Homo sapiens: one gene and its partners. The protein of the gene in region 1 purifies or fractionates together with the protein of each later gene. This does not show direct contact. Each region holds a gene or a part of one and is shown in the gene's direction. Other genes may lie near its edges.

Region 1 (3,500 bases):
ACAGGCACCTGGTGGAACTTTAATAAATATTCCATTCTCCGGGGGATCCATTATCCTCTCCTGCACCTCAAGAGAGGTGGAAAACCTGATTGTGTGGGTGCGCACAGGTGCCAACTGCATTATCAGAAAGGGCCACAACAGGGTGGCCAGCTGTGCTGGGCTCTTTCTCCTTTGGGGGCAGACGGGTGTGCTGTGCTCTTTCTCCCTGGGGGCAGACGGAGGGTGGCCGGGTGTCCTGTGCTCTTTCTCCTTGGGGGCAGACGGAGGGTGGCCGGGTGTGCTGGCTCTTTTTCCTTTGGTGGCAAACAGAGGGTGGTCCAGAGCAACAGTATTTCCACCGGGAAACAATTGGCATCTCCAGGGCCTCCATATAGCTTGGAAAAGCTTAATAATTCATATTTGAAGAACTGTTTGTACTTACTGTTTTGTGATTGAAGCCACAGAAAATAAAGCTCAGCCAATGGAGAAGGGGGTAGGTGGAGGAGAGGTCTGGGGGATTTGTCTATTTCTCAGAAGGAAGATGAGGTTTAAAAGGTGGAGAAACACCATTCCAGGAACTCAGAAGGCCCCTCCAGCTCGGGCTCTGTGGCCTTGTGAGGTTTCCACCCATGGGTGGCTGGCGATGCTTCTCCAAGGAGCCGCCTTTGTCCTGAGGCTCTGGAGTTTCTAAAAAATAAAGAAAAGGAAGAGGAAAAAAACCAGTCCTACTTTGGCATCAGTTAGGCTGAAGGATGGAGGATACTCTCACCGACATGAGTTATAACTTCCAATTTGTTGGACACCACAGTCAAGCCTCAGCCAGGGGAGGGAGGAAGGGAGGGATAGTCTACTCATCCAAGGAGCCGCGTGTGAGCTGTCAGTCAGTTGGGGGTGCCCGAGGACCCAGGGCCCTTGGCTGTCTGGCTGACCCAGCCGGAAGTTCCTCTGGCCCTCTCCAACCAGATTCTGTGCTGATGGCAGCAAAGAGCAAAACCAAAATTATATATATTTATTACCACTGCAGTCAGAAGTGGAGAGACGGTGGTAGTGAGAGAGGGCTAAGGCTGAAAACCATATTTGAAAAAGTTGATTCACGAAGGTAGAGGAAGCAAAGTGGCAGACGTTTGCCATTTCATCGACCGGCTGGTGTTCTCCATTCATGTCATAAATGTCTCCTGTCATTTGATGCCAAAAGCAACATGATTTGGTTCCCCGGTGGCCTATAGGGTTTTTCTCTCTCTCTCTCTTCTTTTTTTTTTTTTTTTTTTTTTTTTTGCAGTAAATGTTTATTTGTTGATAATAGACTTTAAACAGCCTAGCCTTGACCTCAAGTCTCCTGAAGCATCCATCTTCTCTCAGAAAAATGTTTCAAAGTTTGTGTAATTTTGGGGGGAAGGTGTAACTGACGGGGCAGTGAAGGGCTTGTGTTTGCTTTAACTACTGCTGCGGTGAGGAGTGGTGGGGCATAAGGGGCCACTGTGCTCGGAATGGCAACTTTCTTGGGTTTCAGGCCGGCTGACAGCACTTCCTCTCTGCCCTTTACCTTTGCTTTGCCTGATCAGTACAAATAAATTTCTGCGTGGGCCCTTCCTTTGTTATTCCCTGGATAATATTGTATCCATTTCTGCTCAGCATTTTGACTGGCAGCCGCTGGACCTGCCCTGCTGACCTTGGGGCCCCAAAGGGAGGATGAGGGGCTGGGGATCTGGGGATGTGTGGGTACATTTGTGGGGAGGCTTTGTCTCAATTGGGAGCTTGGCTCGGACCAGCCCTGGACGAATGTCCTGGCTGATGGCAGAGCACCTGGCTGGCCTTGGCACTTGGTGAACTGGGGGGAAGTGTTGCTGAAGGAAAAACCCGGTTCCTGGAGCCTGGTTCCAGAAGAAACAAAGATGTTTGCTTCCTGGCCGGGCCAGTGCTGTGAGAGAGGCTTCCCCGGGAACTGTGGGGAGGTGGCTAGCTGGGGAAGGTTGTGACGGCCACCCAGAGCAACAGCGATGCCCACTGGGGCTGGCAGGAATGAGGAGGCCACCGAGCTGCTGGGTAGCTGAAGATGAGCTGAGCATGCTGAGACACAGGGCCGCCAGGGGTCCCTCCCCCAAGCGCCTCCCCAGGAACTTCAGCAGCGGTGACGGGAGGGGAGGAGCAGCACTGGGTTGGGATGGGACAAGTTGGGTGTGACTGCTGTTCCCCCTTCTCCCGCCTCCTGCCTTCCAAGGGGACTCTGTGACTCTTGTCGTGTGATTCCTGGATTGCTATAGTTACTGGGCTGTTGGGTGTGGGCGCCAGACCAGGACTGAGCTGCCCAGGCCTTTGGGGTTCCAGAGGATCAAGGTGCTCTGGGGTGACCTCCTCCAAATGGAGGGGTCCTGGGTGGGGCACATTTTCTCAAAGGAAGAGCAAGCTTGTTGGCAGTTACAGAATGGGGATCCAGAATGTCTCCATCTCCCAGTGACAAAGGCCAAGGGCCTTTAGGGAAGGACTGACAGCTCTTCCTGAGCCTCAGTTCCCTTCTCTGTGAAAAGGGGGTAGTAATTCCAATCTTACAGGGTTGCTCTGAGAATAAAGTGGAACAAACCCAGATGCCAGCCAGTGTTGGGCATGCAGTCAATGTATGTTTTCTTCCTTCCTGCTGGGAAATGAGCCGAAGGCAGCCCCGTCTGGCAGGAATGCATTGTCTGTCCTGCGTGGGAGGCCCAGAAAGTGCAGCCTCCTGAACAGGCCTCCCAGAGGGGTCTTGCCCACCCTTCTGTTCCTCACCCAGGTTGGGAGCCTGTGTTTTTATTTTTATTTTTTTTCCCTTGAAAAGGGCATGGGGCCGGTCTGGATGCCAGAGGCTGCTCCTCGGAGCCAAGGCCAGCCTGTGGATGGGCCCTCATTACTACTGAGACACGTAGGTCCCATTTTTTCCAAGAGACTCCTGAGCATGGTCAGTGTAGATGTGAACTTGCAGGAGCAGCGCCTTACTGAACAGGGAGGCAGCCTGCAGTAGTGCCTCTAGAAGGGCAAGGCATTGGCGTTTGTTGAGCCCCTGTGAAGTTCACTGTCTGTACCGTCCCAACCCTGTGGTTAGGGGAGGAAACTGAGGCTGAGCAGCTTGAACAACTTCCCCAGGCCCAGAGTTAACTCTGTAGCAGATTTTTCCCGGCCCAGAGTTACCCTGTAGCAGATTTCCCCCCCAGGCGGGTCCAACTCCCAAAGCCGGATGGGTTCTCTAAGTCCTCCTATACCGACCTTCCGGAAGGTGCGGGCTCTACATTGTTGCTAATCTCCCCCAGAACGCCCAGCCTGGGAGGGGTGGGGAGGGGGAGTCGCTACCCGAGGGCTGGGAGCAGGGTGTCACTGACCTCCTCTGCGCGGATTGCCCCCTGTAGGGCCAGCCCTGGCCAGCGGAAGAAAAAGGTTAGAATAATTGCCTTCCCCTGGGCGGGAGAGCTTCCTTCGACGTCCGGACACGCGGATGGGGCGGCTTTCAGCGGCCTCCACCCGCGCACCCCTCCAGGCCCACCTCTCGGCGGTTC
Region 2 (3,725 bases), on another chromosome or scaffold:
TTCTTAAACACCAGCAGGGAGCATAAACTCTCCACTTCTCTGTTTTCCTCTTTCGTGTGGCTCCAGGCTAATGATGTGCAAGGAAAACACAGCCATCTATAAAGCCCCAGTGCTGTCCCCGTATTCTTCATTTATTTTGCATTTGATTATGCCACAAGTCGGATCTTGTTTCTTTCCTTTTTTTAAAGTTATTAGTTCAAATATTAATGTAGGGATATGGCATATATTGCTGCTCTTGATTGATGCCTTCCCAAAAACAGGAAGACGTGCTCGTATGAATTTTAAGAAAGTAGGGGTCCTGCAATGCCTTGCCAGAAGAGTTTTTCAGATACATAATTTAGATGCCCTCCAGGCAGGCTTTCAAGGCATTTTTGCCAGAGGGCAAGAAAAAATAACTATGACTGTTAAAAGTAAATGATTTTTGCTAATGCACAATTAATGCCAGAGAAAAGCACAGAAGAGAAAGATGTTGATAGAAACTTCTGATTAAGTGAGCACCCTACCTTGATGTGTATCTTTTTTTTTTTCATGATAATGATCAGTGGTGCAGAGAGCTAAAAGTTTTCATGTCATGCAAATGCCGAGTGCAGGGTCATATGAGAAGTGTGCGAATGTGCGTGCTTAGGAGGTGACAGCTCTAGGAGGGGCTGAGCAGGCAGTGCGTTATGTGCAACGAACAGTGACACAGTTACTGTCACCTATGCAGGCAGCCTAGAATATATAGACTACAGAACATTTAACTTGATTACCCTACAGTATGTGTTCACTCTGGGCATGGGGATGCGTTTCCACTGAATAGGTTTTCTGATGGCGGTTTTCCCACATTGGATTCCATAATTGACAAAGAGCTACTGCACTGTGTCAAGTGCACAGTTATAATTGAATTAATGATATGGGCAAGTGTGAGACACACAAAATTAACATTTGAAGAGGCCTGGTTTAATTTTGTCTTTTACATATTTGTGTCTCCAATTATACTTTAATGAAAGAGAATATACTCGCTTAATGGATTTCTTTCAACAAGCTTAGCTGAGCTCATCATTAGCTGCACTTGTTGTTGGCACCTTGCGATGTTTTCTCTAATGTATTTTTATTTCTTTCTACTAGGGGATGGTTTAGACAACAGTGTAGCTTCACCTGGTACAGGTGACGATGATGATCCGGATAAGGACAAAAAACGCCAGAAGAAAAGAGGCATTTTCCCCAAAGTAGCAACAAATATCATGAGAGCATGGCTCTTCCAGCATCTCACAGTAAGTCAAGATGAAAGAGAAAAAAAAAATAGTTTTTGTTGTTTTGCTAGCAAGTTATACGGTCTCATACTGATTTTTTTTTAAACTAAGGTGCCTATTTTCTTATTCTTGAAATCTGATGACTAACAGACTAGTTAAAGTTTTTTTTTTCATCAACTATTACCATCCAAAGAGCACCCTCTAGAAAGTAGCAGGTTTTTGTTTTAAGAAGCTGGGAATGGACTTTATTTAAAATGATCTAAGACCCTAAACAGCATATATAAGTAAATTTGTTATTTATGCTAAAAGTATGAGAGCAACTTCGGATACTGCAACAGCAACCAAGGGAAATGGCTGTAAGGAGCTCACAAATCCATAAACGTTGCTGATTACACTGTTAACGAAAGCTGTCTCCTCTAGGAGGCCAAAAAAAAAAAAAAAAAAGCACCTTGCCACATGCATGTCCAAGCTCACAATATCAGGTGCAGCTTTAATTGCTGAAGCAGTTTACAAATATGTCATGTATTTATATGACAAATTCAGAAGGGTTATAGGTGCTGTAATGCCTTTGTTTGCAAGGTGGACATTAAAGATTCTTTTTTTAGCTGCTCAAGTCCATTATCTTAAAAGCTAACCATGTTCACTTCTGGAAACGGTTTTACTATGTGAGACATTTTAAAAGTAACAATTTATCTTTATCTTCCTGTTTGCAATCCTTGTATGTGTGGATACATACTGTTGACTCTAAGACTCTTATGACAAAAAAATTACAATATATTTTTACAGATAAACTAGGCATGCTTATATTTTACTGTTCATTTGGAAATTCTGGGAAACCAGTAAAAATTTCAGAGGTTGCTTCTTGCTATAATATTGTTTTCAGGCCATTCTATTTAGGCTAATACTTAAAAATAGAGTAGCACATTGAAAGCTGAAGGTCTTCTTTGATTATCCAACTTGTGTGTTGCCATGCTGAATGACATTAGTTACAGTGTCATGGGTCCAGGACAAGGTTCCACTTTTATTTATGGTGGTGGCTGCTGATGGGCTCTTCTTGCAGAGCTACAAAGGGCAAGGGGTGGAGCAGTGGTGGGGAGGGAAAAGTGATAGATTCACATTCCTAAATCGGCCATTTTGATGTAAGGACATTAGTAGCAAACTAAGGTGTATCGATCTGGCCTGTGGTGTCAGGATTAGCTGGGAGAACCAATGAGGCAGCTGTGGTAGTGGTTATTCTTGCCTTGCAGCTATGGCCATTTCAAAGGTCAGGGCCCTGCACTGACTCGGCTCAGAGGAATTAGACAGAACATGCGGTCTCTGGACTGATTACTTAACCAAAGACAAAATAATGAGTCCTAAGCAAATACTGACTAATTGAAAGGGCTGTAAATCCATTACATATTGGTCAGGGATAATCAGGAGTATTTAATCACTTTTATCTATTCAGGAGCACTGAAGCTGCAACAGCAAAGCCCTGAACCTTGCCATGTGGTTATTATTCTCATCATTATCAAAATTACTTCACAGCTGTTCTTTGCTACATCACCTCAGCTGGAGATTTACTAACCTGTAAAATGTTTTTAATTTGGAAGTCGAGTGACTGTGAGGGGAGGGGTTTCTCATTTTTAAATGAAGGTTTGTTTGGTTAGAGTAGCAACTAAGAACGGCAGTGTAGCTGCGGATGACAGGCCAGCTGCCTTCTCCTGACCAGCTCACCTGTTTGGTTCCCTCCCTCTGTCCTCCTCCATGCTTGGTCTTTCTTGGTCGAAAATAAACACTTCAACAGCTGCTTTCCAAGCAAACAGCTACGTGTGTTTTCAACCTCTCTGTCATCAAAACCAATGTCAGAGAACAGTAGAACCTTAGAGAATGCAGCTGCTCTGTTTATAGATGAGGAAACAGAGACCCAAAAAGGGAAGTTACTAGCTGAAGGTCAAGCTGAGACAAGGGCCCGAGACTTCCAAGTCCCCAACTCTGTGATTTTTCCACATTACAATGACTTTGCCAAAATGACGATCACCTTTAACAGTTGCATAGAAATCTCACAGTCTCCACCATCAATACGCTCAGAGTCACAAGGGAGAAATACGGAGAAGCCAAGTGCTGTTTTCTTTTCTTGTTTTGAAAGCTCCGTGTTACCCAATATAGAAAGCCTTACCACCTGTATTTTGTGAGTTGAATCTCACATGGGAGTGTCAGGAGCCCTTAATACCTTATCTCCCACCTCCCTGCCCAGGGCGGCACCCAGCATGCACCATGGCCACCGATTAGAGTTGTGGGTGGCTGGTGATTTCTGGGCACTTGTTGTACCTCTGCTGTGCTACGAACTAACAGTAAGAGCTTGTAGTCACCTCAAGAATGCTTTCATCTAGTTGAATGTATGCAAGGCTTTGTGCAGAATTCTCTGTCCGACTCAAATTTTTAATGACTGCCTGTCCTCCAGGTTGGGAGAGAGGACTCAAATAGCCTAAGCTGGGGGAGTTGGGAAGTCTG
Region 3 (3,725 bases), on another chromosome or scaffold:
AGGGGGTTACCGGAGGGAGATGGGCCCGACCACCGCTCACAGTAAAATGCCTCGTGCGAATTGCACTGAAGTATACCCAACTTGAGACTGGCTGTTTTATGATCCTCTCTGGGAGTTTACTGCTCTCTGCTTTTAAGTCTATAGATTGCTTTAAGTTAATGAAAGTGCTGCTTTCAAAAGGGGCTTTTATTGTGTGGCAGTGGCAAATCCAGTACCTCCCCTTTACTCTTCCAAAATGGGCCTGTTTAAAAAGAGGGAGCTTGCTGGATCCCACATGGCAGAGCTTGGGGGAGGGTGCCATGTGACAATGAGAATTAATAAAAGTTAATGTCCAAGTGATTCTGAAAGACGAGTTTGCTTCTTTTCCAGTCCGGTTTCATCTGTTCATTCTCGTGTTGCCTTTGGGCTTTCACTGAGTCTGCCTTTAAATGTTGCTTGGTGCCTCCCCAGCAGCCTCTCCCAGCATTGCTTTAGGTAGGCCTGACCCCTGTTCAGTTAAACCCAAACTGGATTTCAGGATTTCAGCCCAGCTGCCAATTCAAACTGCAACTAAAATATTTACTTGGGACTGGGGGAGGGGCTTTGCCTCGCGTTTAGTAAGATAAATGTGTTTAAATGCCTGGGAACCTTGAGAAGGAACAAGGCAGGCTGTTTTTCAGTGCTTTTTGCTTTTTCAATCTGTTTGGCACAAAAGGTGAGATGACAAGGTTTTTGACTAGGTCCTAACACAGAAACTGCAGTGGGCTCAGGCTGTGGCTTTGACCGCATGTCATAACCATTTAAACTGTGGTTAGTTGTTCAAAGCTCAAAGCTTCTCCAAGCTGGGTTTCATTAACTCTACACCAGTTGCCTGGAAGTTCAGTAGCAATAAATTGTATAAACACATTTGAAGTAAGTTAGTGATGAAATAAGTAGAATTACTGTCTTGTGAGTGGAGAATCCTGAATTCATGGAGTTCTAGCTTAACTGGAAACATACCTCCTCTCCCTTGGCCTTGAAGTTTATGGGTGCACCAGAGTGTGTGTTAAATTTCTTTCTGCCATGTCCATCTTCAACCTGGGCTGTAACTCATTAGAGACCAAGGCATGCCTAGAAAGCAAAACGGCTGGATTTTAAAGGGGTCTCTATTAGCTTGGTTTAGGAATCAAACCAAACCAATTGACCTGACTTCTTTACCTTCCGTGAATCCAACGTGCAACGTAAACAGCAGCAGAGCAGGGGAAAATTAGATGTTTAAATGTTAGAGGCTTAATAATACTGCGTTGTTAGCAATTGAATTTGTTTTTATTAAAGAAACAACCAATAAAATTTATAGGCTTCCAACATGTTGCAAGATTTCCTTGCTATTTATTTAGCTTCCCCCTCCCTACTTTCTGAAATTCTATCTCTAATCTCAGGCTTTTGTTCCCGATTTATTTAATCTGGAGCACATTTTCTAAATTAGTTCGAGGAGGGTGAGAAAGGCTGTTATGAGTTTTCCTTTTTCCTACGCTGTGTGGCACAAGGACTGCGATGCTGTAAGATATATATAAACGTGTGATGCAATTGCTGGAGGTGACGGCATGTGAAGCCAAGTGTCTGGATCAAACAAAACGCAGATCCGAGCATGGAGAGGGTGAAAACGATGCTGCAGAGGAAAAACTGAGGAAGTTCTAATGGAAAATGAAATCATCATGAACCACCGTTAGCCTGAGTCTAGCCAACACACCATGCTTTGTATAAAACACTTCACGTGAGATCCGTGACTTATTGAAGACTGAATTATACTGAGAAGCAGAATTTAGAGGGAGGAGCTCCACGGGCTGGGTTCTATCCAGGCAGCATGGCCAGGATTGTTGCGATGGGGATCTGCTAATTTAATTAAATCTAATACCTGGTGGGAAAGGGAGGAAGGAGGGAGGGAAGTGGTGGGCAGATAATCAAGGTTGGCAGGTCAGCATGCTGAGCTAGTGTTTAGGCTGAAATTTAGTGGCCTGGTCTCTTTTGACTCTGTTATTGCCAGGGCTGCATGACTCCAGTGGGTCATCTAGCTTCTGGGCCTTGGTTTCTTCATCTGTAAAGTGGAATGTATCACACACAGTTCTCACTAGGGTGAGATGATGGGCTTGGATCAAGCACAGGCTGCGCTCTGAGTAAAAAAAATGGGAGATAGAGGCTTCTCAGCAGCAAAGTCACATTCTTCGGTGTGTTTTCTTTCCTCGCCTGGCTCCAGGGCCTTCCCCACAACTCTCAGGAGTTCTTAGGCTATAGTAAAGGGGCTGAATTCCTGCCTTGCATTACATCCTAGAATTTGAAAGGCCTGCTGTGACTCCAAAAACCATCTACACTTTACCAAGAGGGGCAATTTTGGCTGAGTTGGGGGATCCAGCCCGCTTCTTCCAAATGGTGTTACCTGGAATAGCTGTCCTGTATCAGACGAATGCAGAATCTGACTTATCAGAAATGCAGCCCCTTCTCTTTATTCCACTGGGAAGGCAAGGCCTGAGCCCTGACTGGTGTGTGTGTGACATCTGGTCGGCTGAGGGGGTTGGGTGCTGGTCTGCAGCTAGCCACGGCCTGAACCTCTCTTAGCAGTCTCTGCTGGCAGATCAAAGCAGATTCTGGGCCAGAAAGCCCAAGAAGTTACACCCGGCACTTACACAAAACTGTGTGTGCGCTCGTAGACTCCTTCTGTTCCGGTGTCTGATTTGTAAAAGCTAGCTCTGATCCTGGAGACGCGGCTCTGGTGGAATGCTTGTCTTTAATACTCCCTAGTCTTTGGGGATTCCTTGGGGTAATTTTTCCTCCTCATTTCCTTCTCAGCCAATCACAGGCAACATCTTAGTCTCCATTTTGATTGGGGGTGGGAGACAGGGCTGGGGGTTGAGAGAGCAACAGTTGGAGGGCACAGTCTTTCTACCTGAACTCCAGGTTTTCCTCCCGTCCAGAACCCCCAGGAGAGAGGGAGAAGCAAGCCCGGGACAGCTCAGTTCATCTCACGCGGTCAAGCAGAGCTTGAGAAGAGCTTGCTGCAAATGCGTTGTCTTCAAGGGGATCTGCTGTTTGGCTTGGATGCCTCACTGCAGGCCCGGCCTGCCTGGGTTTCTAATTACAAGAAGGACGTTTCTGCTAAGACCTATCTCACTAAAAACACATCCCTGTGTGTAATAAGAAACCCTAAACCAGGCAGGATATTTTAAAACTGAAGCAATGAAGATTAGATTAAGTCTCCACCAAACAGCTTCGTTCTTGTATTATTTTTGGCTGGAATGTGGAGAAAAGCAGCTGGCCCTGGGGCCCAGAGCAGACTCTGGAGAGTTCGGATAGGGCCGGGGTGGGTGGGGTAACTGTTAGTTTTCTGCTTAGTAGGAACGTGGCCAATTTGAGTACGGCTCAGTCAAGGCAGTGGGGGTGCCCAGTGGGGGAGGGGGGAGGCTGGGGTGGAGGAGGAGCCAGATCCAGATGGGCCAGAAAGCGGCCACAGAAGCAGCAGGTCACAGGGCACTGAGGCTTGTAAATCCTCCACCTCATTAGGACGTAGTCTTTTGTGTTCAATTTACATCTCTACTCACATCGCCATCCCAAATCTAGTAGAGAGGGAACAAATAGTTGTTGAGGATTCTTGGAAATAGAACCCAGTAATCGGGCATCATGGGCAGGTGTCCTGCCTTGCTGGGGAGGGGCAGCATGGCATTCACCCATTCCCTTTGTTCTTCCATTCAGCAAATATTTATAGAGCATCTTCT

Evidence for each region.
Region 2: the proteins of LMX1B (region 1) and MEIS2 purify together in Homo sapiens (affinity purification with mass spectrometry; 3 studies listed by BioGRID and IntAct, with this or other methods). This does not show direct contact.
Region 3: the proteins of LMX1B (region 1) and PKNOX2 purify together in Homo sapiens (affinity purification with mass spectrometry; 3 studies listed by BioGRID and IntAct, with this or other methods). This does not show direct contact.

What each region holds. Positions count from the first base shown.
Region 1 is NC_000009.12:126,620,428-126,623,927, forward strand, and holds part of LMX1B (LIM homeobox transcription factor 1-beta), read left to right. Parts: intron 1-3,500. UniProt on the Homo sapiens protein: Transcription factor involved in the regulation of podocyte-expressed genes. Essential for the specification of dorsal limb fate at both the zeugopodal and autopodal levels.
Region 2 is NC_000015.10:37,034,342-37,038,066, reverse strand, and holds part of MEIS2 (homeobox protein Meis2), read left to right. Parts: intron 1-1,107; coding exon 1,108-1,253; intron 1,254-3,725. UniProt on the Homo sapiens protein: Involved in transcriptional regulation. Binds to HOX or PBX proteins to form dimers, or to a DNA-bound dimer of PBX and HOX proteins and thought to have a role in stabilization of the homeoprotein-DNA complex.
Region 3 is NC_000011.10:125,167,564-125,171,288, forward strand, and holds part of PKNOX2 (homeobox protein PKNOX2), read left to right. Parts: intron 1-3,725.